Homo sapiens: one gene and its partners. The protein of the gene in region 4 interacts with the protein of the main gene of each other region in a pairwise test. Each region holds a gene or a part of one and is shown on either strand. Other genes may lie near its edges.

Region 1 (7,036 bases), on a different chromosome or scaffold from region 4:
CACCTACTGTGAGACTAGGAGTACTGTCGGGGGGCCGGGACATCTGTGAGCCTAGGAGTACTGTCAGGGGTTGCCTGGGACACCTACTGTGAGCCTAGGAGTATTGTCAAGTGGGGCGCAGGACATCTCCTGTGAGACTACAAGAATTGTCAGGTGGGGCCTGGGACATCTCCATTCCTTCCTGTTAACAGCAAAACTGGGAAACTGCTGCCACCAAAAGCTGAAGACAGAACAGACCCAACTCCTTGGGGTGAGAAACTTAAGACTCATCCTTAGAATTCATCAGGTCTCTGTGAAATAGTCATATTACAAAACCACCTTTTCATTGCATATAAATTGCATTTTATTACATCCAATAGAAATAGATCCTAAAAATGGTCAATAGTATGTTGACTGGTTGACATAGCAACCGATGACTAGTTTTCAAATTGAGAGTATAAAACCCACAATTATTACTTTTCACTCATGTATGATAGGTTTTCGAACTGTGGGTGGCAGTGGGGTGGGGAATAGCGGCACATGATAGAAAAATAGAGCCCTTGTAATTGTATTCTCAAACTTTGAGAGGTGGTCATTGTGGGTTCTTAACCTGGGTATTCCAAGGAGGTTTATAAATGGCCTTAGGGCAAGGAGTTCCATGAAACTCATGAGACTGATAAAAATTATGAATTTATAGCATCATTGTACATACATCAGTTTCTCCAAGGAAGAATGGTCCAAAACCCCCATCAGATTTGCAAGTGTCCATCTATGCCTCACGAATATTTAAGAATCACTGCTGGATGGTTTTCTCTGGTTTGCAAATGGATTCCTCTTAGAGAAAAAAAAAAAAAAAGAAAAAAAAATGGAAAACACTTTACTCTGTGCTGCCCTAGTGCAAAAGGAGGCTTCTCTGGCCTTTTATTCTCCATCAGTTAACACTGCCTGTTTTCTGAGTGTCTATCACTTCAGCCAGCAAAAGGAACTGGACAGACTTAGTGAAAGTGAAAAGAGGTAGATGCTGCTTGTTAGTTTTAGAGTTATTATCTCTTTGAAAAGAACAGCTAAATTAAGCAAACTGATTGCAAAAACGTGGAACCAACCCAAATACCCATCAATCAATGAGTGGATAAAGAAACTGTGGTGTGTGTATATATATACATATATATATGTGTGTATATATATATATACACACACATATATATGTGTATATATATACACATACATATATACACATATATATACACATATATATACACATATATATACACATATATATACACATATATATACACATATATATACACATATATATACATATATATATACACATATATATATATATACACATATATATATATATATGATGGATACTACTTAGCCATAAAAAGGAGTGAACTAATAGCATTCACAGTGACCTGGATGAGATTGGAGATTATTATTCTAAGTGAAGTAACTCAGGAATGGAAAGCCAAACATCGTACATTCCTACCCATAAGTAGGAGCTAAGCTATGAGGATGCAAAGGCATAAGAATGACAAAATGGACTTTGGGGACTCAGGAGGAAAGGGTGGGAAGGGAGTGAGGGATAAAAGACTACAAATAGGATGCAGCGTATACTGCTCAGGTGATGGGTACACCAAAATCTCACAAATCACCACTAAAGAACTTACTCATGTAACCAAACACCCAGTTCCCCAATAACCCATGGAAATAAAAAATTTAATAAATAAATTAATTAAGCAAATTGAACTTATCTAGATCATAAGAAAACAGAATATCTTATCGATAACAATACCTAAAATGGATATGAAAAATTAAGTTGAGCTTTAAAAGGTAATATAATAAATAAGTGTAAGGGAAACTGGTTCCTTGATAATAAGCTTTGGTGTTCACTAAATGTCAATTTTTTTCTTTCCTTTTTTTTTTTTTTTTGAGACAGTGTCTCGCTGTCACCCAGGCTGGAGTGCAGTGGTGTGATCTTGGCTCACTGCAATATAAATATACTTTTTTTTTTTAAAGTAGATATGGGGTTTTGTGCCATGTTGCCCAGACTGGTCTTGAACTCCTGAGCTCAAGTGGTCTGCCCTCCTCAGCCTCTCAAAGGGCTTGGATTACAGGCAGCAGCCACTGTGCCTGGCCTAAATGTCAATTTAAGAAAATAAATAAATAAATAAGGAAAGAAAAAAAAAGAGCCCATGTATTTCCTTCCACTGTACAGTAAGCTTCTTGGACTACAACCACCTTTTCTCACAACTAGATTCTGCTTATTTAGAAGCAGGGATTAGCAAATCATGAAGAACTTCCCAAAGGTGTCCCCTTGCCCCGGTGTGACATATGGTCATGGAATTATACGGCAAGACTAATTTCCAGTGAATGCCATTCACTACAGAAGGGACTGGCCTAGATCGCAAGTAAGGTTAGATGAGGTGACACTGATCACAAAAACCCAGCTGGTGAATCAATCAAGACACAATGCACAAACTTCCGCAAAGAGTGGATAAGGAGGAAAAGTGTTTCTTTCACATCTTCTGAACTTCGACTTCGCACTTTGTTGCTGATTTCTGCCTTTTGATTATTGTTTAATTCTCCTCTAGACTAGGACAACTCTATATCTGATGACCGCCATGAGGGGCTTAATGACCTCTGAGGCAGGAGTAGTTGAGAGATGTTAATCTCCTACTGTGTGGCAGATACTCTACTGGACACATAGAATATAAAATTGAAGAACAAGGCATGCTTCCTTCAGTTAAACAGAAGAAGGTACTGCTTTGTTTTTAAACACATGGTTAAGTCAGTAAAGTTACTTTTTATTTGTATTTATTTATTTTTTTAGACAGGGTCTCACTCTGTTGCCCATGCTGGAGTGTAGTGGTAAGATTTTGGCTCACTGCAACCCTCGATCTCATGGGTTGAGGTGATCCTCCCACCTCAGCCTCCTGAGTAGCTGGGACTACAGGAATGCACCACCATGCCCAACTAATTTTTGTATTTTTTTAGAGACAAAGTTTCGCCATGTTTCCCAAGCTGGTCTCTTAACTCCTGGGCTTAAGTGATCTTCCTGCCTCAGCTTCTCAAAGTGCTAGAATTACAGGTGTGAACCACCATGCCTGGCCAAAAGTTACTTTTTAAAATACTGATTAGATTTGCTGATATCTCTCAGTGGGCCTGATGTCAAAGACGAGGCTAATTTTTTTGTTCATTGTAGATGGCTGGAGCTAGAAAATTGACATTTGATGAACAATTTTTATCTTTTGTTGAACCACCTGTACTTTTCAGCTCATGACTAACTACAAAGGGAAGAAATATCTTTAAACTGGGCATGGTGGCTCACACCTGTAATCCCAGCACTTTGGGAGGCCAAGGCAGGTGGATCACTTGAGGTCAGGAGTTCGAGACCAGCCTGGCCAGCCATGGCCAACATGAAACCCCATCTCTACTAAAAATACAAAAATCAGCCGGGCATGGTGGCATGTACCTGCAGTCCCAGCTACTCAGGAGGCTGAGGCAGGAGAATTGATTGAACTTGAGAGGCGGAGGTTGCAGTGAGCCGAGATCACCCTATTGCACTCCCGCGTGGGCAACAGAGTGAGACTCTGTGTCTAAAAAAAAAAAAAAAAAAAAAAAATCTGTTTAAATTGTGCAACATTTTACTAATAATCATATAATTCTATGTTTATGATTTTCAGCTTAAAGTTTAACCCTATCTGGATCCATAATATACTGATTTCTTTCAATATCATTTTATTACAGAGGATACAATAAGAAATGTAAATGGTGTACTTCAGTATTCTAGTAATGTTTTAAAGGATATCATCAGTATCGTATACCTAATATAGTTCACTGGGAAAAAAAATCTAGACTCCTTTTCCCTATCACCATATAAAATGCATCCAAGAGGCCTCTGATATATTTAGCTTTGTTTTGTCAACTCCTATACTCATCATGCAAGGTAGAAAAAATTCAGTTGGCTTCTACTGAAACAATGCATTAGTGCTATAATAGTGAATGTTTTTTGTGCCATGAATTAAGGACTGTACGATGTGGCAATTCTTAGAGTATATCTAGGGACCTTTCTACATATTAGTTGCTCCAACATCTTCAGATTAAGGTTCTCATTTTCCTTCCATCATGAAAAATACATCCCTCCTCCCCCTCCAAAAAAATCCTCATAGATAAAAGCACAAAGTCAGGGCAATGATGATGTACACTCTGCAACAATCCAACAAAATACACTGTTTGTTCTTAGAAACGCAGTGTGGACCGGGGGCAGTGGCTCATGCCTGTAATCCCAGCACTTCAAGAGGCTGAAGCAGGAGGACCTTCTGAGCCCAGGAGTTCAAGACCAGCCTGGAAAACATAAGGAGACCTTGTCTTTGTAAAAAGTAAAAGAAAAACTAGGCAGGTGTGTTGGCACGCGCCTGTAGACACAACTATTTGAGAAGCTGAGGTGGGAGGATCACTTGAGCCCAGGAGTTCCAGAACAGAGCAAGATCCCATCTCAAGAAAAAAGAAAGAAATGCAGTGTGCTTCATGTTGCTTGGGATGGCTGCTGGCCTGTTACTGCAGATGTCGTGTGGAATACAGTCAGCATCTACTGGTTATGCATCTTCCACATTCATCGCATTGGAAACCAGGTTATCACAAAAGGAAAGATGGGTGTGCTTCCAAGCACCGTGTTACTTATGTTTTCCTCTAAATTCAGGATTAGGCAAAATGTTGGGAGAAAAAAAGTCTGAAGACATTAAGTGGCTTATAGGATAAATCACATAGATTTAAAAGGAGTGGTTTCCCTAGAAGACATAAGTTTTCTTACCCTGAAGGAATCTGTAAATATGAGATATGGTGCACATACCAGCACCATTTAGGATATCCAGTAAGTGTTAAAGGCGAAATTCCACAGAGAAAAAATAACAACAAAAAGCATATCCATTTGTTCATCAAACATCTGTTTACCTGCTAGGGGTCAACATTGTTCTAGACACCATGAATACAACAGTAAACAAGAGTGGCAAACCCCATGCCTTTGTAGAGCTCATAATCTAGTACAGAATACTGATATAAATTATAGATTGAGTATCCCTAAACCAGGAATCTGAATCTGAATCTGAAATGCTCCAAAGTCCAAAACTCTTTGAGCACCTACACGACACCAAAGGAAAGACCCACCGGAGCACTTCAAATTTTTGGATCAGGAATGTTCAACCATGTAATACAAATACTCCAAAAATTTTAAAAATATCCAAAATCTGAAACACTTCTGGTCCCAAGCATTCTGGAATAAAGAATACTCAACCTATACACGGCAAGCTAGAAGGTGGTAAGTGCCTTGGAGGTAAATAAAGCAGGGATGAGGTTGCAGGCTGGACTGGAAGGAGGTGTCTCAACATAACACCTGAAGGGATGACACAGCCATGTAGACGTCTAAGAGAAGTGCTTTCCAGGTAGTGGGAAGAGCACATGCAAAGGCTCTGAGGCAAGACGCCTGGTGATCCTTTTGCAGAATTCACGAGCATGATGATTGCATGTGTAACATGTGTCTGACATGAACTTAGGGAAAAAAAAAAAAAAGAATGTGCCCAGCAATTTGAAGGAATGAGGACGCCAATGTGTTTAAATGCCTTAAACTCCTTTCAGCCTGAGTGGTTACCATTAGGGTAAAAATGCGTCACTAACACAGCAACATTTTCACAGACTCTTAGAACAGGAATGTGCCTTTGTAAATGCTTACTCCTACCCCTTAATCTTACCAAAGAAATGAGGAAGAGGAGGTTGGGTGAGTAATCCAAGGTCACACGGCCAGTGAGTAGCTGAGAAAAGGTTTCTGCACAAGAATCCCAAACAGCACCATGGATTTGTCTCATGCTTCAATTTTACAATGAAGAGCCACTTTTTCTTTTTCTTTCTCTCTTTGAGTTGGAGTTTCACTCTTGTTGCCCAGGCTGGAGTACAATGGCCGGTGGGATCTCGGCTCACTGCAACCTCCACCTCCCAGGTTCAAGCGATTCATCTGCCTTAGCCTCCCGAGTAGCTGGGATTACAGGCATGCGCCACCACGCCTGGGTAATTTTGTATTTTTAGTAGAGACGGGGTTTCTCCATGTTGGTCAGGCTGGTCTCGAACTCCTGACCTCAGGTGATCCACCTGCCTCGGCCTCCCAAAGTGCTGGGAGCTGAGACAGGGTCTCACTCTGTCGCCCAGGCTGCAATGCAGTGGTGTAATCTAGGCTCACTGCAGCCTTGACATCCAGGACTCAAGCAATCCTCCCACCTCAGCCTCCTGAGTAGCTAGGACCACAGGCACACCACCACACCCAGCTAATTTTTGTATTTTTTGTAGAGATGAGGTTTTACCATGTTTCCCAGGCTAGTTTTGAACTCCTGAGTTCAAGCAATCCTCCTGCCTTGGCCTCCCAAAGTGCTGGGATTACAGGCATGCAACACTACACCAGTCCCACTTTTCTTAATTAAAACAAAGAAAGAAAAAAGAAAAAAATAATCCAGCCAACTATGTAATCTTCTTAGAATTTAATCAGTTTCACTTTTTTAGTCAACAGATAGCCAAGACCATACAAGCACCCTAAATATTTGTTGAAGAATGAATAATAAATGCAATATTACCTAAACTTCATTACCCAGCAACTAACTAAATAAGTGTGTAACAGAAAAATGTGTGCACAAGAAAACATCTCAGGATGTTTATTGTACAAACTGTTATAGTAAAAAGAAATAAAAATAAAAATGAAAATGGAAATAGAGTGTCACTCAGCAGAAAAAGTGTAACAGTGAAAAACTAGGCCAGGCACAGTGGCTCATGCACTGTGGAAGGCTGAGGTAGAAGGCTCACTTGAGGCTGAGAGTTCAAGGCCAGCCTGAGCAACATAGTAAGACCCTGTCTCTACAAAAATGAAAAAAATTAGCCAGGCATGGTGGCATGTGCCTGTGGTCCCAGCCACTTTGGAGGATGAGGCAGGAGGACTGCTTGAGCCCAGGAGATTGAGGCTGTAGTGAGCAGTGATCACGATACTGCACTCCAGCCTGGGTGACAGAGCGAGACC
Region 2 (7,219 bases), on a different chromosome or scaffold from region 4:
AAGACGGCATCACTGCACTTCAGTCCGGGCAACAGTGCGAGACTCTGTCTCAGAAAAAAAAAAAAAGACTCAGCTTACGTGTCATTGTATCATTTGGGAAGCATTCCCTCAGTAAATCAGATGTTCCTTCTTTGGGCTTTTACAGCACCTATAGTTGAATTCCTAACACACACCACGCTATACTGACATGATCTCCCACAGATCTCTAAGCCAGGGGTCAACAAACCCCAGGCCACGGATGGTAACCAGTCCATGGCCTGTTAGGAACCAGATCACACAGCAAAAGATGAGGCAGGCGAGCAAGTGAAGCTTCATCTCCATTTACAGCCACTCCCCCATTGCTTGCATTACCACCTGAGCTCCGCCTCCTGTCAGATCAGCAACAGCAGCATTACATTCTCATAGGAGCACAAAGAAGTGAACTGCGCATGGAAGGGATCTAGGTTGTGGGCTCCTTATGAGAATCTAAAGCCTGATGATTTGTCACTGTCTCCTATCACCCCCAGATGGGACTGTCTAGTTGCAGGAAAACAATCTCAGGGCTCTCACTGTTTCCACATTATGGTGAGTTGTATAATTATTTCATTATGTATTATAATGTAATAATAATAGAAATAATGAGGAAGAGGAAAGGGAACCCCAGAGGCAATCAAAGGTAATGAAAATGCCTTAGACGGCCAGGTGCAGTGGCTCACGCCTGTAATCCCAGCACTTTGGCAGGCTGAGGCGGGTGGATCACCTGAGGTCAGGAGTTCGAGACCAGTCTGACCAACATGGAGAAACCCTGTCTCTACTAAAAATACAAAATTAGCTGGGGTGTAGTGGTGCATGCCTGTAATCCCTGCTACTCGGGAGGCTGAGGCAGGAGAATCGCTTGAACCCGGGAGGTGGAGGTTGTGGTGAACCAAGATCATGCCATTGCACTCCAGCCTGGGCAACAAGAGCGAAACTCCATCTCAAAAAAAGAAAGAAAGAAAATGCCTTAGAAAACCATCTGAACAATTTCCAGTTTTACCCTGGCCCTGCTTAAAGAGTCTGAGATCAATACGCTTTGGAATTAGACAACTTGGGATCAAATATGGGAAACTGCCACAAACTCGTTGTGTGACTGTTGGCAAGTTAACCTCTCTATGCAACTTCCTAACCTGTAAAATTAGCATAATACTTCCTACTTCTCAAGGCTGTTATAAAGATTCAAAATCTGGTATATGTAATGACCTTAGCACACCTCTCTCTATATATACACAGATACATACATATATATACACACATACACATACATACATATATATACACATACATATATGTATGTGTATATATATGTATGTATGTGTATATATATATATATATATAGTAAATGCTCCGAAACACCATTGCTGAACCTGGGGATACATGGTTTAAAACTTGTAAACAAAAGAATCCTAGGGAAATCACTATTGCCCCATCAGCTAATTAGAGTATATATATTCCTTGAGGTAGGGTCCCCAAGTTCTCTATTTTTTTTTTTTTTGAGACGGAGTCTTGCTCTGTCGCCCAGGCTGGAATGCAGTGGTGCGATCTCGGCTCACTGCAACCTCCGCCTCCAGAGTAGCTGGGATTACAGGCGCCCGCCACCACGCATGGCTAATTTTTGTATTTTTAGTAGAGACGGGGTTTCACCATCTTGGCCAGGCTGGTCTTGAACTCCTGACCTCGTGATCCACCCGCCTCCGCCTCCCAAAGTGCTGGGATTACAGGCGTGGGCCACCGCGCCCGGCCTGTATTTTGTATTCTTAAAACCACCTAGGGCAGTACAAGACACAAGGAACTAGACACTTACTGGTTTTGAGAGTAAGTGGACAATGTTGGAGCAGGATAGGGGAGACCTGTCATTCGTGCAGTGCCACCGTGTAATCCTATACTTTGTGTTTACAGGATTTTACAGTGCACCTGGAACTTTTGTGTACCACACATCATTAACACAAAATTAACATGGTGGTATGAGCTGGGAAGGTTAGCTATCGCTTCATTTTGCGCGTAAAACAGAGGCTTAGCCCTGGGAAATGGAAGTTTAAAGCCTCCTGCTGCTCCAGGTTCCAACCACCACCACTCCTACCCCCATGAGCGGCCGCTGCTCTCACCCGCTTCTTCTCCTCCACCTCCTGCACACACTTCACCCTCCAGCGGTCAATCTCCTGCTCGCGTTCCACTGCCCGCGCGGCCTCTGCCTCCCGCTCGGCCTCGCGTTCCCGGGCCCTCTCGCGAAGCCGCAGCCGGCGGCGCCGGACCCTCTCCAGCCTCCTCCGCGCCTCGCCCACATAGGCAGCCTGGGTCAACGGCTGTAGCCGCTCGGCCAGTTCCGCGCGCAGCGGCGCGGTCTGGGAGTACAGCAGGACCCAGGCCGCGCCGTCGGCTTCGGCCTCGCGCAGGGCCTGGCTCAGGCCGCGCAGCCGCCGCACCAGGCGCAGAGCCCGGAGCAATCGCGCGCGCACTTCGCCAAGGCTGGGCCCGGCATGCGTGCGCTGGGGCACCGGACAGCCTGCCCGCCGCGGGGTCCCGAACACCGCCTCCAGCCACTGCCGGTCGCGCAGGCGTTGGAGGGCCGCATCCCCGAGCACGTCGGCCGGCGGCGGCGGCGCCTCAGGCCACCGCGGGCTCCAGGGCGGCCCCGGGCCGGGAGGCGGTGGCCGCGGCCGCTCGCCGGCGTCGGTCCCCGGGAAGGGCCGACACTGGGGCGGCGGAGGAGGCAGCGGCGGTGGTGGCACCGGGTAGAAGGCGCCAGCGCCGCCTCCGCCGCGGGAGGCCTCCGCGGAGGCTCGGGGCTGCAGAGCCAGCGGAGGCTGAAGGAAGGGGGCGGAGGCCCCCGGAAAAGGGCCGGGCCGCTGGGGGAGAGGCGGCGGGAAAGCCGGGGAGGGCAGCGGCGGTGGCGGACAGCCGAAAGGAGCAGGAGGCGGCGGCTGCGGGGGCGGTGGGCCTGGGCGACCCTGGCCGAAGAATGGTGGCAGGGCCATGTTCACGACGGAGATGCTTTGAGAAGTGACAGGAATCTGAGTGGCTCCTCATGAGAACCTTCCGACGGAAGTGACGTCGTTACGACGCGCGACCCCTGTAGACTCGTCCCTCCGGAAGGCTCAGTGCATAAGTGGGCAGTCGTTCAACCTTCTGTCGTTCAGTTCATAAATACCGTTCTTATTGAGCATCCTAGGTGCAGAGCTACCCACTCCGCATACAGTGAGACTGAGAGATACAGAGCTTCTCTTCGTGGAACTATCTGCCTAGTATAACACACTAATCAATTAATCATGGTGAGTATCTTCGAGAAGTTGGAGAAGGTTATCCTAAGAAACTGCGGCTGCAGCTGAGATCTGGAAGATAAATAGTTAAATAGAAAAAGAGAGGGAAGCACAGTGCAGATGAGAACATGTGCAAAGGCCCTAGTAAATAGGAGTGTGACCAACTACCCATTTTCTTAGAAAAATGAATTATTTTTACTTTTCTCCTTTCACCCCACCTCCTATTTAGCTCTTTAGGAATGCAATTATAGGGTGGGTGCTGTGGCTCACGTCTGTAATCCCAGCACTTTGGGAGGCCGAGGCAGGCGAGATCGGCCTGTAGTCCCAGCCATTGGGGAGGCTGAGGTGGGAGGATCACCTGAGCCCTGGGAGGTAAAGACTGCAATGAGCCACGATAACGCCACTGCACTCCACCCTGGGCGACAGAATGACACCTGTCAAAAAAAAAAATCCAATTAACCTTTACCTTCTCTCCACCAGACACTCTCTACACTGTAAGCTTATCTAATTATGTGTTCGCTTATTAGTTCCAAGGACCGAAGCTTAAACCAGGGACCTCTGGAACTTTCCCATACCAGGGGATTGCCTGGGGACAACTGTCAATTTACAACCTAGCTCCCCGCTACCCCCCACCCCCCCTCCGCCTTCGCCCCAGCCTCCATGGCGCCAACCAGATCACTGATGGATACATAGGAGCAAGTCCCATAGACCCAGCACCTCCTTGGTCCCTCCCCACCCCTTGCATGCCATCCAGGTCAACCAAGTCCCGTGCACCCCCCACTTTTTTTGAGACAGAGTCCCTCTGTCACCCAGGCTGGAGTGCAATGACGCACTCTCCACTCACTGCAACCACTGCATCCCAGGTTCCAGTTATTCTTGGTGCCTCAGCCTCCCTAGTCAGTTGCTGGGATTATAGACCCCTGCTGCCACGCCTGGCTAATTTTTGTGTTTTTAGTAGAGAGGGGGTTTCACAATGCTGGCTAGGCTGGTCGTAAACTCCTTACATCAGGTGATCCGTCCACCTTGGCCTCCCAAAGTGCTGGGGTTACAGGTGTGAGCCACCACACCTGGCCACTTTCTTTCTTTTTTTTTTTTTATGAGACAGAGTCTCCCTGTGTCGCCCAGGCTGGAGTGCAGTGGCGTGATCTTGGCTCATTGTAAGCTCTGCCTCCTGGGTTCATGCCATTCTTCTGCCTCAGCCTCCCGAGTAGCTGGGATTACAGGTGCCCACCACCATGCCTGGCTAATTTTTTTGTATTTTTAGTGGAGATGGGGTTTCACCATGTTAGCCAGGATGGTCTCGATCTCCTGACCTCATGATCCGCCTGCCTTGGATCATGTTGGGATTACAGGCGTGAGCCACCGTGCCCGTGGCAGTCACTTTCTTTTTACCATTCTCTTACTTGTTATTTGAATTTGCAAGCTGCAGGGAACTGGACCTGCCTTAGGTTACAGGACTATGTCTAGTGGGAAGCCTGATAGAATGCCAGTTTTGGCCTGTAATCCCAGCACTTTGGGAGGCCGAGGCGGGTGGATTGCCTGAGCTCAGGAGTTCAAGGCCAGCCTGGGCAATATGGTGAATTCCTGTCTCTACTAAAACACAAAAATTAGCCAGGTGTGGTGGTGCGTGCCCGTAATCCCAGCTACTGGGGAGGCTGAGGCAGGAGAATTGCTTTAACCCAGGACGTGGAGGTTGCAGTGAGCCGAGATCACACCACTGAACTCCAGTCTGGGAGACAGAGCGAGACCTTGTCTCCAAAAAAAAAAAAGAATGCGAGTTATGGATGGAGCTCTGAGAGGAGTCTGGTGATCCTGGTGAAGTGAAGTCCTAATGTCTGGGGTCTCATATCTTATGAACAATGGGAAACTATTTTGTTGTTGTTGTTGTTGTTTTGAGACCAAGTCTCACTCTTGTTGCCCAGGCTGGAGTGCAATGGCGCGATCTCGGCTAACCACAACCGCCACCTCCCAGGTTCAAGCAATTCTCCTGCCTCAGACTCCTGAGTAGCTGGGATTACAGGCACACACCACCATGCCCGACTAATTTTGTATTTTTAATAGAGACGTGGTTTCTCCCTGTTGAGGTTGGTCTCGAACTCCTGATCTCAGGTGATCTGCCTGCCTCAGCCTCCCAAAGTGCTGGGATTACAGGCGTGAGCCACTGTGACCAGTGGGAAACTATTGGTTTTAAACAAGAGGTAAAGAGAAGCCTGTGCCACCTGATTAGATTTTTAAAATTAAACTATTTTGAGACAATTGTAGATTCATATGGAATATGAGAAGTAGTAATACAGGGAGATTCTGTGTACCCTTTACCCAGTTTCCCCTAAGGGTAACATCTTGTAAAACTGTAGTACAGTATTGTCAGAGGCATTTGAACCAGAGTGACTCCATCTTGAGTGAGGGCTAGGAAAAGTGAAGCTGGGACTTGCTTGGCTGCATTCCCAGGAAGTTAGGTATTCCTAGCCTCTAGATGTTTATGGTTAAGGGAACAGACTAATAACATTTACTAAACAGACCCGTACTTAGGAGTGTCCTGAGATCCCGATATTTTGAGAATAGAAGCATTCCTAATTTTGCTTTAAAGATAATAATGTTGATTCTTGTAAAATATAGTAATTTAAAAAATTAATCCTTTATCACAAACCCTTGTGGCAGAGCACATCTCCCCATGATCTTTTTTTATCCTATATATAAGCAAGCATTCTACCTAGGGTGGACACGTTTCTCCTCTTACTTTCAGGAACGCCCTACTGTCTATGGAGTAGATATTCTTTCACCACTTTACTTTCTTAATAAACTTGCTTTTGCTTTGCACTGTGGACTTGCCCTGAAATCTTTCTTGCACAAGATCCAAGGACCCTCTGTATTAGTCTGTTTTCATGCTGCTAATAAAGACATACCTGAGACTGGGTAATTTATACAGGAAAAAGGTTTAATGGATTTACAGTTCCACATGGCTAGGGAGGCCTCACAATCATTTGGAATGCTGGGATTACAGGCGTGAGCCAGTGCACCCGGCCCCAGACCTCAATTCTTGACTTTTGCGCACCCGCAGGCTCAACACCATGTGGAAGCTGTGAAGGCTTGGGGCTTGCACCCTCTGAAGCCACAGCCCAAGCTGTACCTTGGCCCCTTTTAGTCACGACTGGAGTGGCTGGGACACAGGGCACCAAGTCCCTAGACTGCACACAGCAGCGGGACCCTGGGCCTGGGTCATGAAACCATTTTTTCCTCCTAGGCCTCTGGGCCTGTGTTGGGAGGGGCTGCCGCAAAGATCTCTGACATGCCCTGGAGACATTTTCCCTATTGTCTTGGAGATTAACATTCAACTCCTCGTTACTTATGCAAATTTCTGCAGCTGGCTTGAATTTCTCCTCCGAAAATGGGATTTTCTTTTCTATGGCATTGTCAGGCTGCACATTTTTTGAACTTTTATGTTCTATTTCCCTTTTAAAACTTGATGCCTTTAACAGCACCCAAGTCACTTATTGAATGCTTTGCTGCTTAAAAATTTCTTCTGCCAGATACCCTAAGTCATCTCTCCTAAGTTCAAAGTTCCACAAATCTCTAAGGCAGAAGCAAAATGCTGCCAGTCTCTTTGCTAAAACATAACAAGAGTCCCCCTTGCACCAGTTCCTAATGAGTTTCTCATCTCCATCTGAGACCACCTCAGCCTGGATTTCATTGTCCATATCATTATCAGCATTTTGGTCAAAGCCGTTCAACAAGTCTCTAGGGAGTTCCAAACTTTCCCACATTTTCCTGTCTTCTGAGCCCTCTAAACTGTTAACCTCTGCCTGTTACCCAGTTTCAAAGTTGCTTCTACATTTTTGGGTATCTTTTAAACAGTGCCCCACTCTACGGGTACCAATTTACTGTATTAGTCTGTTTCCACGCTGCTGATAAAGACATATTCAAGACTGGGCAATTTACAAAAGAAAGTG
Region 3 (3,955 bases), about 99 Mb from region 4:
AGTTCACCTCACCATCTTCATTTCTTGCCCCTTCCCACTCTAGATACCACACTTCAGCCAAATAGAAATGTTGGCTGCCCCCCAAATAGACATTTTCCCTTATTTCTGGGATTTTGCCCATTCCGTTCCTCTGCTTGTAATACGCTTTCTGCCCCCTCCTGTCAGTTACCTTTTGCCCCAACTCTCACCCTAGAGTGGCCTTCTTCACAGTGGCTTCAAGGCTCCTGGCAAGAAGGGAGGGCAAGCCCCAATGTGCAAGGACTTGTCAAGTCTCTGTCTGTTGACCAAAGAAAGACATGGCCGAGACCAGATTGAAGAGGTGGAGAAATAAAGCACTTCACAATGAAAATCATGATTTCATTGCACACAGGGCTGGAGGAATGCCTGGTTCTCTGCAAGCCATTTCCCATACGCCCCCCATGCTTTCCCCAGTGCCTACTCAGCTTCTGGTCTCAATCCCAAAATCACACCCTCTGGGGTAATTTTCCTGATCCTCAAAGCCTGGGTGAAGAAACTCCTACAACACTTTATGACATTGCTGCATTTATTACTCCGTACTGCCAATGAATACATGAATGTAGGATTACATTCAATTATTTGTAGGATAAATGCAGGCCCTCCGATCCACACAGCAGAGTTGACTATACTCAACATTTTGTGGCAACGTGGTGTCAGTTTTCCCTGTAAGGGAGTGTGTTTTGGTTTCTGTTTTATCTTCATTGCTTGTACTGTACCTGACACAAAGTGGGTACTTAAATATATCTGTGAAATAAATACATAACTATCATAAAAATAAAATGGAGTACTTTAAAAAGGCACAAAGAATGTTCTTGAGACCACTGCCTTGTTAGGCTCAGCAGGCTGCAAACATTAGAGCTGAGACAGCACAAAACCACATGAAATTAGACTGAAATGCCTCAGCGGGAGAAAATGAAAGAAAACGCCACAGAAAGCGACACTTTCCTTTTATTAGATTCACAATGCCTTTGTAACGCCCAACCTCTCCTTTGTAGAATTTTTCTTTGTTAGAAAACAGACAAACTCTGTCCTTAGGAACCGTCTTCTACTTGGTACAGCACTGGCCTCAGGCCGCCTGCATCTGCGTGGACCAGTAAGAATGAAGTCCAGCAGCATAGAGAAAAGCATCATAAAGGCTGGGAGGTCATCCCCCAGGGCCTCCCCTACTTCACATACACAGAGACGTGTGCATATGTCACACACACACACATATTATATATAGATATGTATTTTTTTTTTTTTTTACAAAAATAACAGGGTTTGCACAGCTCTATTAATTTTTTAAAATTACACAGGCAAGGTTTATGCTTCAGTATAACCATTTTTACTTTGGATTTAAGTGGGAATTTTAGGCCTAAAAATAAGATTACCAAGCAGAGGCCATCTAGCCACACAGACACAAGACATCTTGAGCTCCATGAAACTAGAAATGTGGTGATGTCATCCTCACACGGGGGGGCTACACATCCCCATCGATTATTTTAACTAAAATACAAAAGCAAAATAGTGTGTTAAAATAATCCTCTACTCAATGCATTAGCACATATACCAAATTATACTATCTGCATGACAGTCTCTAGGTACCAAGACTGTATTTTTGCAAGTGCTATTCTCTACTTCATTAAATACAGTACCCAGCCAGCAACCACAAAAAGAGAACGCATGCTGTACAGCAAGAGAAGGGGAGGGAGACGATTTTCAGGGCCATAACTTCCATGGCAACCAAAAGAAAAATAAGTAAGACAAATCTCACATGACAGATATAAAACTAATTTGCAGTGACATTTGATATATAGTTTTATCAGAAGTAATACATTTAGGTTACAGTTACATGAAAAAGAGAAACTATGTGAAATTATAGGCTTTCTCCTAGAATATCCAAAATGCTCATCAACAGTTAATTAGTACAAGAAAGATGACCACCAGGTGATTGAATAGACAGAATGTCATGTAGTATTTTAAAAACACAGATTCTGGGACTAGAAGCTACCACCAAAATATCCAGAAATCTGAGTTAACAGGTCCTTTATTTTGCACACTTGCTGCTGATATATAGAACCACGAAGTGTTTGCACAGACCACGAATGCAGCCGCTAGCCTAGAGGCTGGTCACAGAAGAGAATGCGATGAACACCGTCCTGCCAGTGTGAGGACGGAGTGTCTGATGTGTTTGTGTCCCCCCACCACCCCCCCATATACAAAGGCCATCTCTAGGGCAGAAATCTCTCAACAGCTCAAGCCCATCCTCGCTGCCCCCTCCACGAAACGACACAGCTCAAGCTTGGTGCTGGGAAGTCTTTCCGATGCTGGTTTGATTCCTGATCACCCAACTGGACAGGGCCCTCTCCAGGACCTCCCAGGTTCTCCCTGGTACCTTCCCTCCCTCAGGAGGAGGCAGCACTGTCTCTGAAGCCACCAACGAGTAATGCTAGAAGAATCAGAAGAAGGAAGTATCTGATGAAAAGGCACCTGCAAGTCTAAAGTCCTCTTTGGTGAGAACACTGTACATCCGCTGAGGCAGAGCTTTGGAGTAGGGAGCAGGGCGCGGCACAGTGGTGCGCAAAATGAATTCCCGGCCAGCAGGGGGTGGGAAGTCTGACACGGAGTTCTGCCTTCTTTCCTCTGGGGAGCCCATTCTCTTCAATTCCTCCTCTGGTGGAGTCATAGCTGCAGCCTGGAAAAGAATCAAATGCTAAAGTCAAAAGCAGGTCAAATGCTAAACTCAGATGCTTTTGAAGGACAGATGAATTAACATAATAAAGATATGAAAATGTCCCACGTTACTCAGTAATGCAGTCAGCTATATGTTAAGATTACTCAAAAACCACATAACACAGCAAATGCAAGAAGCTTGAGACACTGCATGAGCAGCCGGGCTGGAGACAGACAGGAGGGATGATGACTGCCAGGCAATCTGCTCTGAAGAGAGAAGGCCATATTTACACATCTGATGAAAAAGGACCTCGGAGCTGTGCTGCTTTCTATGTTTCTTCCAGCAATGACCCAAGTCTACGTCTGACAGCCTCAGTCCAGTAAGGAGCTGTTTTTCTCCAGAGTGAAAAGATGATTTTCATCTTGACTCTGGGTAAGAATTTTTTAATCGATTCTTTTTAAGGTTCACTTGCCAAATTAAAAGTGGGGGCATTGGTCTTGCTTGCTGGGCAGCTAATGTGATGCCGAAGTGATAGAGGCCCATATAGCAATGACCACAAAAGAGAAGTTCGCAATATTAAAGGCATCTATTTTTTCATTGAAATGACATAAAATGCATGTTCATTTACAGCCTACAATTTTAATTCTGATTACTGTACTTTTTTTAATACCATCAATTTGGGAAAAAAAATTGTTTTGGCAATGGAAACATGAAATCATGTTGCGCTAAACATCAGCAAGGTAGGTAAGCCAAATCCAGACTGTGAGAGAGGTGGTTAGTGTTAATGACCTTATGAAATTAGAGGGATGGGAAGGAACAAGGAACTATGAGGGGCAAAGGCTATTTTGTTACCTCATCAGAAGATTCAGTCAGCTTGAGAAGGGGTAAGAAAAGAAACAGTGATGAAAGGGAAACAAGCAAGATGGTTTAAATAGGGCTAGACAAGGGAGTTCAGGATTATTTCAAAGACAGTATGCACTACATTATGGAACATGATCCTATCAAAAGAATATTCAAGACAAAGTCACACCAAACACAGCACACCCAGCTGTCAACTACAGCAGACATCTACTACTACTCATGCATCCATGGCTCAACAGGTGACATATGATGTCATTTAATGGGAGAAATGAACAACAAAAACCTAGCTCTTTTACTGGGAATTATGATGCAAAAAAAAAAAAAAGTGTTCATGGCTTGAAAAATAGAATTTAGGAATAGGTGCCTAACAGTTATTCAATCTAGCAAGTCTGAAGCGAAATCCAGTCAGTCATTTATTTGCTG
Region 4 (7,036 bases):
AGATAAAGTTGCTGCTCTATGTAGGACACAGAACTAGAAGAAAAAGAGAACTTTTAGCTACAAATGTATATTTTGTATACATTTACACAAAACATACATTTTACATGTACATTTAAAAACCATTAAGTAATGAGAACTAAATGTTAATGCAAAGATCTATGTAGCAATTTTTTAAAGGTTTTAAGAGGCTATACCCAACAAGGATGAGTTCTCTCAACACACATTAGAATTTCCCAGAAATGAGATACCAAAAGGCCATGTCTCTTAGGGTGCCACTTGGAGATAGAAGCCCCTAACATTCGCCCTATACCATGAGGCTTGTGACACAACAAACAGGATCCCTAGGGAAGTCAAAGAAGGGTGCAAGTTTCTGCACACATTTTTATTCCTAACTAGCAGCACGGCAGCAGCCACGCGTACATTACTTCAGAATCAGCCTTGGGTACTACTGTCAAGGCAGCAGTGGCGGCAGGCTGCAGTGGGGTCATTAGGCAGGTGCGAGAAAGAGAAGCTCAATTAGCCCATACAGTGCCCACCCTACTCCCTTTTCTCAGGCCAAATGAGACCACTTTTCTACCTTCTTTCACTTCTGACATTTGCATTAAAACTAAGTGGTGTATTTAGGCAGCCAAGCCACACTCTCATCTGTGTTAAAACAACAACAAACCACCCAAAAAAGGGGAAGGAGTATTCTCCCCTTGAGCAATATCCCCCTCCCGGGCAAAGTGTCGTATTATTGGTCCCCAAGGAAGAGGAACAGTTAACCAGCTGTGAACTTTCAGGATGGGTGGAAAAGAGCATTTTCAATGACCCGACTTCCCCACCTTCCCACACACATTTGGGTAAATACATCTCCACATTGCACTCCCGTCTTCATTTTCTCTGACTACAGTCTCCACTGTAGTCTAAATCCTTGCTGCTTTTCCACCCAGTCCTCACAATACAAAGCCAAGACAAAACCACAACACATGCACACAGACAGCTCATCAGAAGCAGGTACAGTATAGATAGAACTGGGCTTACAGACAGGAGCCAGCGGCCCGAGCATGAGGAGCAGAATTAGATGGGTGCTGCTTCCCTAAGGCATGCGGTATAGGTAGGTTCACAATTATAGTCCTAGGTTTTCAGAGTAAAGAATTAAAAATCATTTTTCCCCAGAGGACTCTGTTCTTTGGGTCATAACATCCTTCCATGCAGTTAAATGCTAAAATAGCTAGAGAATGCTTCAGAAGCTCATTCTATCTCTGGCCCTCATAGAGGCCTAGGAACCCGATATAATTAAAATTTAAGACATGTTCTTTATGTTCGTCTCATTCCTGTTTCACATCTAGAAGAACGAACCTCAGAACAATCCAGCTTTCATACCAATGCTAGCACAACACAAAAGCAAACAAAGATGTCAGGTATTAAAAAAAAAATTTTTCAGAATTTTATAGGGAGAAAAAGTCCTCCATCAGAAAAAAAGCTTATTTTTTAAAATGATGTCAACTCAGTCTGTTCTACTCCAGTGTCAACCCACTAGTGTCTAGCTCATGCTTCTTACTCTCACCGCATCAAGACTCTTACAAGTGAAATGTGTGATTCACTTTGAGCACCCTGTGTATACTACTGAGGTTCCCCTTTCATGACACTATGGTTTAAGAAAAGACCATCAGAGGTTTCTAATGTCTCAGAAATCTTCATCTTCCTTGTGCTCAGCTAACTTTAATGGAGAAGAGAGAGAACCCAGAGAAGAAGACTGTTACTAGAAGAGGATTGCTCTCAAAATTTGATCAAACACTACAAAGATGCATTTTGTGATGCTTTCAAAATCTGGTCCCTGAATACCTGCTACTTTAAAAAAATATTTCATCGTAAAGTATTAATTTTGCCTCTAATTAAGTTCTTCCGTCCCTTCTTTATCATCCAAACTTTGCTCTTTTCTCGGCAAAGCAACTCAACCTCTCACTCTTCTTTTGCCTCATCAATATTCCCACCCTGTGTGAGCCTCACCTTGCCTCTAAGATTTGTGGCTGCTTTTTCACTTTCCTGGGTTTATGCAAGTCCATTCTTTTTATTTCCCCGCTTCCCTCCCTGTGTCTTACATCAGTCCCTTTCGTATTCCCTTTGGCACTGTTCACAGATGTGACTCTTCCTTCCTTCATCCGTCCTCACTAATGATCTGTCCTCCTTTCCACTGTCCTCAAGATGACAGAGACCACCCTTCTCAAATTTCCCAGTGCCAATCTGCCAACATCTGATACCCACATGATTATGGTGCCATCTCACTAATTTTCTTCTACTACCTCTCTTGATGTTTATAGTTTAACTGTGGAGATTATTTCCAACCCAGAACCTCCAATAAAACTTAAATTATATAAAACCATGATATATAATGTTGGTAGAAGTCAGTCATGTAGCTAATCCTCACCCTGCATAATAAGATTAATGAAAGTTGTGCATTGGGAAGTTACTGTCTAATGTATTAGCAAGGCGATGTATTTACTGACTAATCCAAACCTCCCAGCCATCGCACCTATACCATTATAAAACTCACCTTTCAGAATATAATCAGTTAACAAGCTCGGAACTTTTTCACTGTCCTCCTTCATGGCACGAAGAACTGCAAAATAGAAGAGGGGAAAAAAGACAACAATTAAAAATTTAGATCAAAAATATTATTTAATTTCAATCATTGTGGCCTTAATCTTCCTTAATTATAGGATATAACTGACTCATACAAATTATAGGTGATTTTCCTGATAAGGGGATACAACAATAAAGGCCCAATAATTTATTTTAGTGGAGTAAGTCCACAAGAATTTATTTTCGGTAAGAATATCCCACTTACCTGAGAGTTGCTTCCCTGATTTAAAATTTCCAAACAGTGGAGACAAAAAAAGAGGAACTGGGTTATTTACAAGGAGCCTTCGCTCTGTAATAATACCGGAAAGTGGGTTACTATAATGTGCACCTCAATGAACTCTGTGCAGCAAGAAAACCTCAGTGCTGCAGATCAAGCAAACTAGAGAAACTCTTAAAGAAATGGACAGCTATACCCTCCAACAAGCGTATCCTGTCAGACTCCTTAGAAACTTTCAAAGAAAAGACCCAAATGAAGAACAGACTTCCATGAAGCAGCATCGGGCATCTGCCTGGCTGTTGCCTCCTCTGCACTAGGGAGAAACCTGGGAGAATTAGCCTCATTCTAATTTGACAAATTTATCTTCTAAGTAAAAACTAAAATAGAAAAAGCAGCCACCTAGTATAACGTTTTTCTTTTTTAAGCTAGACCATTCAGGTTGAGATAAACTCACAAATATTATACTTTAACAGAGATTGCCAACTCAAATTTTCTCCAAAGCATCCTGGTAAAAATATTTCACTGTTTTTCCCCACCAATACGACAAGGCAAAATAGTGTAACTGTCAAATCAGCCTTCCTGGGTTTAAACCCTGGCTCTGCCACTTCCTAATTGTGTGACGCTGAGCAAGCTACTTAACCACTTTTGCACCAAGCTCTTCATCTGTGAAATGAGAATAATAATTAGATTTAATCTCAAAGGTTTGTTATGAGGACTAAGCTACTAATTCAGATATAAAGGTCATATCATAGTGCCTGGCACATAGTACATGCTATGTATTAACTGTAACTAACACTACTCAAATTATTTAAATTTTTATTAACTATTATTATTGCACCCAAAATCCCCTAATAGCTTTTATCAGGAAGACTATATATCCATAAACACTGTGACTGTCTCCACAGGGCTCTTCTTTTGGAAAGAAAAGGAGCTTTGGACCCAAATATGTCCAGAGATTCCAAACTGTGACAACCTATAAAGACATCTCGATGCTGGAATTATGATGACTTTAGTTTGACCAATGAAGTATTTGTTCTTGATCTGAGAAGCTGAGGCCTGCCAGTAATTCCTGGCTTATGAGCAATATTTATGTTCCCTTCTTTAGAGGGCTACCATGTTCAGTATTTCTGCTTCCAATCATGTTTAAAATTTTTTCTAACTTCTAAATAAAATCACATACCAAAAACCAGCATCATTAAAAGTATAATTGCCTGGGAATTAAGAGATCCAGCTCTGTAACTAACCATCCCCCTGTGTGATCTTGGACACATATAACTTAAGTTCTTCCTGAAAATAAGAGGGCTAGCTACCCAGTTAATCTCTTGATTTTTTATTTCAGACTGGCTGGCATCACTTGATTTATCCATATTTAAATATAAAATTTTTAAAGAATTATTCACCAAAGGAAAGAATAAAAGCTCCAAGTTAGCAGGCAGGGAGCTAAGAAATAAGACACTTGCTTCTACTCTTAGGTTTTCCTTGCCCATTCCTCTTAAATTTCCAAAATAAGTATCATCATCCATACTCATCCATGTGATGCTCTTTCATTTGGTTCCCCCCTAATTAGCAAGTATCATAAATATTTACCATAACAAAGACCTAACAGATCAGCAAATTCAATCCCTCCATTTTAACGGCTAATTGATAGTAACTTAGCCAAAATCATACATATATTAATCTATTTACTGTGAGGTAAATAGAACAAATATTTTTTATCCTAGTTTTTCAATGTAAGCAAAAGAGAGTAAGTAACTTCCAAGGATATCCCTGAAAATAACAGGGATAGAACCAGAATTCAAGGCTCATTTGCGGCCATCATAAGAGATACTCAATATCATGTATATTTAAATCTAACAATTTTTTTTTTAAGGCAAGCCCCTTGAAGGTGCATTATCTTTGTCTGCTTTGTTCACTAAAGTATCCCAAGTGCCCAGATCATGGCCTGGTACAGAGTAGGCCTTCACTAAATATTTGCTGAATGAATGCATGTTCTTAAAACATCACTGTCAATTTATGTTCTACCTATAACTACTACCTCGGGTTCTACATTCATAAGAAATAAAAAGTGTTTACCGTAAATCTTTCCTATTCAGTTACTGACAATCATAGATATATAAGATCCATAAGGAATTTTATTTATGATAAATGGATATGTTCTTAAACATGTAAGAGATGATGGAGATTTAGGTTATGCTTTTTCCCAAAATTTTAGCTCATAAATATTTCACAAGGTAAGAAAAACAGAAAAAGTACAAATCAACACTAGAGTTACTGTTGTATTTAATGTCACAGCCATTTTTGGCTTCATTCTTATAAAAATAAACAATTATATGCATCATTTACATCCTAAACTGACAAAACACTAACAACAAAATCAGCCAACTAAAGTCAGGTGTTTACCAATCAGCAAAAGGAAATCAGGTAATAGTTTCATTTTGTCTTTGCTCACTTTTTGTTAATATTTGAAGATCTTCAACAGACGGTGGTCCGTTTTTTTTCTCATAAGGAATGACTGTAGTCAAATACTGCCAAGTTTAAAAAAAAAAAGTGTCACTTAAATCGGAATTACCTTATCTGCAAAAAATTTGATACTGTTACTAGAAGGTCTATCTGATAATATAAAACACAAGCTACTTTGGTAATGAAAACACAGGTATTGTATGGGAATAAAGTTATCTTACTATCTCAGATGGAGCTCATTTTTTTTTGCCCACCTCTATTTGCTTCATACAAACCTAATGTCAACAGAAACAACCACCTTTTTGCATTTCAGTTATTGAAAATTTCATAGGACTAAGTCTGAGGATGGTTTACTCAATTTGTTCATTTTTAAAGTGAAGTATTATCTCACATTCTACTTGCATATTTTTCAACACATTTTAAAAATAGCAATTTAAACTAAAAACATAGTTTTAACAGTTCTGCACAATAAAGTAATTTCCAACAGCAAAATAATTCTGTTTCAGACCATTTTTATTCTGGTTGAACAAATGGTCCACATATATAACATGACAACTTTGAAAAACACACACTAGCTTCTTTCAGAAGCTAACAAAGACACACTTAAATCGTTTTAGAAATGCGTTACTATTATTTTAAATTATTGGGTAAGTCATTGTAAACGTTTTTAGGCATTAAAGGAGAAAAGTTAAAGTAGAGAATGGCCTAAGGGGAAATGAATAATGAAAATTAATGTCTGAAATTGAGATAAACTTCCTAGTTCACTACTTGTAAAGGCTCACAAGTAACAGCGCCATGTCTTTTAACTAATCCCATGAAAGCATAATCCATAAATGATTGTCCAGATTTTCCTGTTCTTACCATCCCACCAAAAAAATAGTTCCGTGCATTTCACATATGCTCATATAGAAAGCCAGTGGTTTTTACCTGGAATCTCTTAGCTCCACCCATTATTTAACCTCGTGCCCTAAATCTCAGCTCTGTGGCTAATCCTCACTGAGTGATCTTATCCTGCCCATAACTGAAAAACAGGATAAAGAAAGCTGCTTTACAGTAACTGGATCCCTAAGTCCAGAAAAGTGGTAAAACTGCATAGTTCAATCTCTGAGACACGTTAAGTGTCCCACCGTCTTTTTGACGTAGACTTCTTGCAGGTGATGCCCAATTGTATAATCGAATGTTTCTTTGTAAAGAACAACAACAACAAAAGGCCAGAAATGATGTCCTCCTGGCTTCACTCTGCATGTGTGAGGCAACCTGGAGAGGCACCAGGCGGCTGCACCCTGGCCCGCTCTCTGGCTACCTGGCTGCATCTTCAGGCCTCCCTGCTCCACTGACAGTCTGGAAGATTCCTTGTCTTCTTTTGAGGTTGAGAGAGGTGAGAGGCAACGGAATGAAAACAAAAACTCAAACATCCCTTCATGGAGCTCATTGATGAGCTGCAAATGTCAGTGTGAGGCTTCCCTCTTTAATAGGAATGATCTCCCTTCCGGAGAAACACTTAACTACCTGCAGTAAAAACTCCAGGCATTTGATCTAGGCGTTCTTTTGCTAAACTTCCTACAAGCTACATTTTGTACACCTTCTTAATCTGCACAGAAGAGCTAACTTAAAGACTTTTCTTTTTCAAGGTGAAAATTTCATATAGTGAAAGGTAATTTTAAGCATACCCATTAATGTGAATGTTTCCCATGTTCATGATATTCCTTCAATCATTATACAAAAATGTGAATA

Evidence for each region.
Region 1: the proteins of FEZ2 (region 4) and RAI14 interact in a two-hybrid assay, tested with the Homo sapiens proteins (one study listed by BioGRID).
Region 2: the proteins of FEZ2 (region 4) and PDCD7 interact in a two-hybrid assay, tested with the Homo sapiens proteins (one study listed by BioGRID).
Region 3: the proteins of FEZ2 (region 4) and RAB3GAP1 interact in a two-hybrid assay, tested with the Homo sapiens proteins (one study listed by BioGRID).

Annotation. Positions count from the first base shown.
Region 1 is NC_000005.10:34,659,293-34,666,328, reverse strand, and holds part of RAI14 (ankycorbin), read right to left. Parts: intron 1-7,036. UniProt on the Homo sapiens protein: Plays a role in actin regulation at the ectoplasmic specialization, a type of cell junction specific to testis. Important for establishment of sperm polarity and normal spermatid adhesion.
Region 2 is NC_000015.10:65,130,792-65,138,010, forward strand, and holds the start of PDCD7 (programmed cell death protein 7), read right to left. Parts: upstream 3,018-7,219; 5' UTR 2,991-3,017; coding exon 2,121-2,990; intron 1-2,120. UniProt on the Homo sapiens protein: Promotes apoptosis when overexpressed.
Region 3 is NC_000002.12:135,167,282-135,171,236, reverse strand, and holds the end of RAB3GAP1 (rab3 GTPase-activating protein catalytic subunit), read right to left. Parts: intron 3,545-3,955; coding exon of another isoform or gene 3,524-3,544; intron 2,693-3,523; coding exon 2,456-2,692; 3' UTR 1,504-2,455; coding exon of another isoform or gene 1,478-1,503; 3' UTR 527-1,477; downstream 1-526. UniProt on the Homo sapiens protein: Catalytic subunit of the Rab3 GTPase-activating (Rab3GAP) complex composed of RAB3GAP1 and RAB3GAP2, which has GTPase-activating protein (GAP) activity towards various Rab3 subfamily members (RAB3A, RAB3B, RAB3C and RAB3D), RAB5A and RAB43, and guanine nucleotide exchange factor (GEF) activity towards RAB18.
Region 4 is NC_000002.12:36,553,147-36,560,182, forward strand, and holds part of FEZ2 (fasciculation and elongation protein zeta-2), read right to left. Parts: intron 5,368-7,036; coding exon 5,292-5,367; intron 2,603-5,291; coding exon 2,537-2,602; intron 34-2,536; coding exon 17-33; 3' UTR 1-16. UniProt on the Homo sapiens protein: Involved in axonal outgrowth and fasciculation.